2 linked regions of the Homo sapiens genome follow. The protein of the gene in region 2 interacts with the protein of the main gene of each other region in a pairwise test. Each region holds a gene or a part of one and is shown on either strand. Other genes may lie near its edges.

Region 1 (3,649 bases), on a different chromosome or scaffold from region 2:
TCTGACCCTCAGGCATCTGACTGAGTTCCAACAGGACAAGGACACATTCTCCTCAGAGTACTGGGGCCAGACCTGGTGGAGAAACAGGAAAGAATTCTTTTTTCTTTTAGAGACAGGGTCTCATTATGTTACCCAGGCTGGACTTGAACTCCTAGGTTCAAGAGATCCTCCAATCCCCTCTTAGACTTCTGAGTAGCTGGAACTACAGGTGCATGCCACTGCTCCCAGCTCAAAACAAGACGGGATTCTTTTTTTTTTTTTTTCTTTTTTTGAGACAGAGTCTCACTCTGTTGCCCAGGCTGGAGTGCAGTGGCATGATCTCGGCTGACTGCAAGCTCTGCCTCCCGGGTTCATGCCATTCTCCTGCCTCAGCCTCCCGAGTAGCTGGGACTACAGGTGCCCACCACGACGCCCCACTAACTTTTTGTATTTTTTAGTAGAGATGGAGTTTCACCGTGTTAGCCAGGATGGTCTCAATCTCCTGACCTCGTGATCCGCCCGCCTTGGCCTCCCAAAGTGCTGGGATTACAGGCATGAGCCACCGTGCCTGGCCGCAAGATGGGATTCTTAAATCTCGGGGGCCTGGCGCCAACAGCTAGCTTCCTTTTCCTTCAAGTCCCAGGGAAGCCAAAACCTCATCCAGTCAAGATGGAGTTCCAAAGAGTGGGTTCCATAGTTTCATAGCACAAAAGGGGTCTGGTATATTTTATGCAAAAGTGATGCTTTAAATGTTCAACTAAAACAACCCATATGTTAAATTTGCTTTCTCCACATTGTCATGGTGGACAGTGCTAGATTATTTATATTTCAATTCAGGTGGCACAACCCTCTCTAATAATCAATTGCACTAACCCCAGAGAAGCTGTCTGAAATACCTTTATAACAGAAGCTAACATTTACTGACCTCTTACTGTGTTCCATCAGTGTTGTTTATTTGTTTTGTTTTAAGAGATGGGGTCTCACTCAGTTACCCAGCCTGGAATGCAGTAGTGTGATTGTGATTAGAGCTCACTGCAGTCTCAAACTTCTGGGCTAAAGTGATCCTCCCGCTTCATCCTCTCCAGTAGCTGGGACTAGAGGTGTGTGCCAACACACCCAGCTACTTTTCAAATTTTTTGTTGAGATGGGTATCGCTATGGTGCCTAGACTGGTCCCGAACTCCTGGCCTCAAGTGATTCTTCCTCATCAGCTTCCCAAGTAGCTGGGATTACTGGTGTGAGCATCAGTGTTTTTTGTTTTGTTTTGTTTTTGAGACGGAGTTTCACTGTTATTCTTCCCCAGGCTGGAGTGCAATGGCGCGATCTTTGCTCACTCCAACCTCCGCCTCAGCCTCCCAAGTAGCTGGGATTACAGGCATGCGCCACCACGCCTGGCTAATTTTGTATTTTCAGTAGAGATGGGGTTTCACCATGTTGGTCAGGTGACCTCAGGTGATCCTGACCTCAGGTGATCCACCTGCCGCGGCCTCCCAAAGTGCTAAGAATACAGGCGTGAGTCACCGCACACGGCATGAGCATCAGTGTTTTTAAAATATATTATCTAATTTCATCTCACAACAACTTTTTGGGGTGGGTATTATTATTATTTCCACTTTAGGGATGAGGAAACTAAGGTGCAGAGAGGATAAGTAAATTAACTAAGGTCATACATGTGGAAACTAACACGTGAAAGTTAGAATCAGAGCTCTGACAGCTGGCCTTGCTGGCACAAGTTCTTACAGTAACTTGCTAACTTATACCATACTATCCTATCTGGCCTCCCAGGATAATATGGTGGTGTTGTAGACTCTGAGCACAGGAGGACTTGAGTTCAAATATGAGTTCACTGTATAATTATGGGCAAGGTATTTAAGTATCTCTAAATCTCAGTCTCCTCATCTGTAAAGTGGAGATAAGATATGTATTTCACATAGTTGGCAGGTGGATTAAATTAAATATCTGAGAGTCAGTGGGTGACAGAAAAGAAAAATAAAAGAAAGAAAATGACACACACGTAAGTACCTAGAACACTGCTAGGGCCTGTCCACTAAATGTTAGTTTCTTTCCTCTTTCAAAGTTTTACACTTAAACTCACACATATACTTACTGTAATGAAAACTTCTCTAGGTCTTTCCTCAGTAAAAACTGCTACCAATGTAATTCAAACAACACTTTGAAAAAGAAAATCTCAGCAATTTTGACTAAAGAGCTGAATACTAAGTAGAGGAAAAACAAACTATAGTTGCCACCCATCCACTCTTTATCAACATCCTACAGGATATTTTTATTTTGGCCTCATGTCATAACGATTTTTTGTTTTTTAAGGAGACAGTGTGTCGCTCTGTTGCCCATGCTGGTGTGCAATCGCTTGATCATAACTCACTGCAACCCTGAACTTGTGGGCTCAAGCAACCCTTCTGCCCCAGCCTCCCAAGTAGCTAGGACTATAGGCACACACCACCATGCCCAACTAACTTTTTTGTAGAGACCGTGTCCCACTATGTTGCCCAGGCTAATCTCAAACTCCTAGCCTCAAGCAATCTCTGGCCTTGGCCTCCGAAAGTGCTAGGATTATAAGCATGAGCCACCACACCCAGCCTCATGCCTTTTTTTTTTTTTTTTTTAAAGAGAACAAGCGGGCTGGGCACAGTGGCTCACGCCTGTAATCCCAGCACTTTGGGAGGCTAAGATGGATCACCTGAGGTCAGGAGTTCGAGACCAGCCTGGCCAACATGGTGAAGCCCTGTCTTTACTAAAAACACAAAAATTAGCCAGGCGTGGTGGCACATGCCTGTAGTCCCAGCTACTTGAGAGGCTGAGACAGGAGAATCACTTGAATCTGGGAGGTGGAGGTTGCAGTGAGCCAAGATCATGCCACTGGTCTCCAGCCTGGGTGACAGAGCGAGACTCTGACTCAAAAATAATAATAATAATAATCATAATCATAATCATAATCATAATCATAATCATAATATGTTCTGATGCTTGTTCTCTCTCTTTTTTTTTTTTTCTTGAAACGGAGTCTTGCTCTGTGGCCCAGACTGGAGTGCAGTGGTGCAATGTCGGCTCACTGCAACCTCCACCTCCCGAGTTCAAGTAATTCTCCTGCCTCAGCCTCTCGAATAGCTGGGATTTCAGGTGACCGTCACCATGGCTGGCTAATTTTTGTATTTTTAGTAGAGACAGGGCTTCACCATGTTGGTCAGGCTGGTCTCGAACTCCTGACCTCAGGTGAGCCACCCATCTCAGCCTTCCAAAGTGCTGGGATTACAGGCATGAGCCACTGTGCCCAGATTTTTTTTTTTTTTTTTTTTTAGACAGAGTTTCATTCCTGTGGCCCAGGCTGGAGTGCAATGGTGCAGTCTCAGCTCACTGTAACCTCTGCCTCCCAGGTTCAAGCGATTCTCTTGCCCCAGCCTCCCAAGTAGCTGGGATTACAGGCCCCTGCCACCACGCCCAGCTAATTTTGTATTTTCAGTAGAGACAGGGTTTTACCATGTTGGCCAGGCTGGTCTTGAACTCCTGACCTCAGGTGATCCTCCCGCCTTGGCCTCCCAAAGTGCTGGGATTACAGGCATGAGTCACTGTGCCCGGCCTGATTTTTGTTTGTTTGTTTGTTTAATGGAGACTGGTGCTGGTGACTTTGCTGAGTAGCTTCAGCAGAGGGACCT
Region 2 (3,749 bases):
ACCAGGCAGCCAGAAGTGACTAGAGCCAAACTCCAGGATGTAGTGGCACAGGCTTCCAGCATCACGGCAAACAGGCTTGCAGATAATCACCCACATGCATGGTGCCTCTCCCTCCCTACTCCCTCACCCTTGAATGGAGTAACTCATGAGCATTCCCAAATGAGCACTGGGAGGCTGGGTTTGCAAAGCCTGGTGAATGTAATGCATCCAGATTGGGGAGTCGCAGGAGGCTGGATGTGCAGGAGACAGCAGCCCCTTTGGTGGCCTCCCTGTCCTGCACAGGACCTTCCACCCTCCACCCAACAGGCCACTTTCAAGGACTGAACCATGCTAGAGGCTCAGAGCCAAGGCTCCCCAGACAAGGAGCTGGGAATGGGCCTGGGCAGGTAGATCCTCAGGGGTCCCCCAGATGGCTGTGGCCCTGGTCATGAAGGCTGTGAGTGATGTCTTCCCACAGGTCATCCAGACGGGCCTGCAGCTTGCTCAGAACCTTGCCACTGTCTGTTTGTTGAAACTCTGGGGCGAAGGCACTGTGGCCTGGTGGAGGTGGCGCCAGCTGCTGCTGGACCTCCTCAGTCTCCTGGTCGATGGCGCGAGTGAAGGCAGCTATCTGCAGGTAGGTGTCCTGGCGGAAAGCCTGAAGTCGCTGGCGCACCTCCTCGGAGAGCATCTGGGGGTCCGGGCCGGCCCCTTCCTCAGTCCCAGTGCCTGCAAAGGCTCTGCTGAGCTCTTCGCGCAGCTGGTCCAGGTTCTGCTGGATGCGTGCGTGCAGGGCCTTGGCCTTGAGCGTGAGCTTCCGGGAGAGCACCTGCACGCAGCGACTGAGGCGCGCGGGGCTGGCGGGGGCGTGCGGAGCCACACTGCGGTGCAGCTCCTGCACGTGGCGCCCGATGCCGCTCACCAGGCTCTCGGCGTATGGGTGGAAGAGCTCTTTGAAGCGGCCGGTGTGGTGCACCACGCGGCTCTGCAGTCCCTGCAGCAAAGCCCAAGCCTCGTCCACGCCCCCCAGCAACTGGGCCTTGGTGTCTTCCCCCACCACGCGCAACTGCTCCTGCAGCTCCTGCACGCGCAGGGCCACCTGCTCCATCAGATCCATCGTGTAGGGCTTCAGTTGCTGCCGCAAGCCCTCCAAATTCCAGCCCACCAGCTCGTGCGCCTCTGCCATGTAGGGCTGGAGGCGAGCCTTCACCTCCTCCAACTCCTCCTGCAGCTGCCGCCGCATGCCCACCGGGTCCTGTGGGAGCCGAGGAGCCTCGCTCCCACTCAGAGGCCTCAGCTTTTCCAGGAACTTGTTCATATTGTTGAGGTCTTGCTCAAGGCTGTCTTTCAGGGTCCTGGAGAAGGGGACAGATATCCAGGCCGTCAGACTGCTAGCCTCCATCATCTCCTTTGTCCCCAAGTCATCGCGCACTGATCCTCTGGGGGAACCAAGGACGCAGGGCGTTGGCCCCAGGGTCGAGGGCTCTTGTCCTAGCCCTGGCCAGTAACAACTCACGCACGAAGCACAAACACATTGCCCATACAAATCCAGACCTACAACACTCTCCAAAGAAACATAGATGCGCCACATCATCCTTTGATTCTGGGGACTGCAGCGGGCGTCCTCCCGATTGATCCCAGGTCCCGCGCCTCAGTGAGCAAGGGGGCAACAGCTACGGAGTTGTCAAGGCGGGGGCTGCAGGCAGAGGGCGCTAAAGAGCCCAGGATGGCCGGGATCTGCAGACAGAGCTAGCACCGCTCCTTTCCTCTGTCCCAGCAGCGGCCACAGAGGTTGAGGCAGCAGAGGCAGGTCATCATGGCATGGCCCAGCTGTCTCCTCCCTTCGCCTACACCCCTTCCCCTGGGCACTCACGCGGGCTCGCGAGCCATCTTCTGCTGATGGATCTGCTCCACCCTGCCTTTGTCCCCGCTGGTCTGGCTGAAGTAGTCCCAGAAGCCTTTCCGTGCCTGGGTGGCCGAAAACGCTGTGGAGAGGGACTAGGTAATCAGGGCCTGGGCTCTCCTCCCCCAGGGTGGACAGGGCCCTCTGGCCAGCCTCCACCCACACCCCCACGTTGAAGTCAGGGTCGGAGACCCACCTGAAAGAAGAGCCAGAGCCCAGGTGAGCACGGCAGCCATGCTTGCCATTACCTGCTCTGAGAAGACAGGTGGAGGGAGGCCTGGTTAGGGGAAGAAGGAGACGAAGGGACATGGCGCAGGGGACTTGCCCAGGGGGCCTCTGCAGGGGCAACTGCCCGAAATCCTGTTACCCCTTCCTTGGGCTGGGGAGCACAGAGCTGTTGGGGCTCAAGAGGACTGACCTAGGTGAGTCAAGGAGGCTAGGGTGTCTTCCTCAGACATGGGAAGAGGGCGTGCTCTTGCTACCTCAGTCACATAGCAGGGAGCGTGGTGCTCTAACCCCTTCGCAAAGGTCCCAGACCCCAGGAACAGTTCTCTAGGCCACTTCTACCACCTCTCCCCTGCCCACCTGTCTCCCTCCCTCCCATTTCATGGTGGAAAAACTGAGCCATAATGAGGGCGAAGAGGCAACTCTGCCAAAATGTTCCAAGAGGACGTCTTAGGGGCCACCCCAGGCTCTCCCCTGAGGCCACCTGCAATGCCCTCCCTTAGGACTGTGACCCCCATCCCTCTGCCCCAGCTGCTCACCTGCTCACGTCTGGGCACAGAGAGCAGACATTCTGCTTTATACTCCAGGGCCCTGAGCCTCTGGCACCAATTGCTCTGAGTAAATACCACGTGGAAGTTCAAAAGAAGTTGACCTCAGCTGCCTCCCAGCACTCACCTCCTGCCCTTTCCCTGGCACCCAGAGGGTTAATGAGTGCCCTGGTATCAGGGGCTGCCCCAGTAGAGAAGTGCTTCCCAGGAGCTTTACGGGGGATGGGGCTGAACTCCTCACCCAGTTTCTCCCAAACCCCATGACCTTTAACCTTCCCACTGACCTGCTGGCTGGCCCACCAACAGAGAAGAACCTGTTTGTCTGCCAAGGGCCCCTCTCTTACACAACTACCCAGAGTCACTGTGTCCCAGCCGGCAAGATGGACAGTGTTCACCTACCAGCCAGAACCCGAGCAGCCCCTGAAAGCTTCACTACAGGTTCCGCAGGCATCCTCAGCCAGCATTCATAGGGTTAAAGACCAACCACATCCCTCTTTATGAAACAATCCTGGAACAAGCAAGGGAAGCCAGGCAGGGTGAAGATGAGATGGCAAGAGGCATCTGGGCCAGGGACTCTGAGCCCCAGGAACTGGAGCGAAAGTGAGATTTGCCCCATGAGGAAAAGCTGAACTCCACTCGCAGGGCCTCTGAGGAGAGCAAGCCCAAATGCTCAGATCTTCTCTGATGACACACCCACTCCGTCTACAGTACTCATACACACGTTCACAAGCTCCCGATTCTTGGTCCTAAATGCATCTTGAATCAATCCCCTCTCCTCCATTTCCACTACCATCATTGCACCAGTTGTCTGTCACCTTGATTGCATTCATAGCCTCCAACAGGTCTTTCTACCACACTCCTGCCCATTTAATTCATCCTCCACTGTGGCTCATCCTGACTCATTTCCAGTCTCATCTGCTGCCACATAAAACCACGGCATTCCCTGAGCCTTTATACAGGCTTCCCTCTGCTTGAAATAGCCTATCCCCTGGTGAATATATATTCATTTTTTAGAGTTAGTTTGTATTAGTTAGAATTAGACTTGGCTGCAAGGGACATATATATGTGTGTATATATATACACACACACATGTA

The links. The genes of interacting proteins can lie anywhere in the genome.
Region 1: the proteins of APOA5 (region 2) and MORN4 interact in binary tests that used the Homo sapiens proteins (3 or more experiments, as listed by UniProt).

Annotation. Positions count from the first base shown.
Region 1 is NC_000010.11:97,623,483-97,627,131, forward strand, and holds part of MORN4 (MORN repeat-containing protein 4), read right to left. Parts: intron 1-3,649. UniProt on the Homo sapiens protein: Plays a role in promoting axonal degeneration following neuronal injury by toxic insult or trauma.
Region 2 is NC_000011.10:116,789,734-116,793,482, forward strand, and holds the start of APOA5 (apolipoprotein A-V precursor), read right to left. Parts: upstream 2,147-3,749; 5' UTR 2,128-2,146; coding exon 2,079-2,127; intron 1,965-2,078; coding exon 1,853-1,964; intron 1,335-1,852; coding exon 395-1,334; 3' UTR 1-394. UniProt on the Homo sapiens protein: Minor apolipoprotein mainly associated with HDL and to a lesser extent with VLDL. May also be associated with chylomicrons.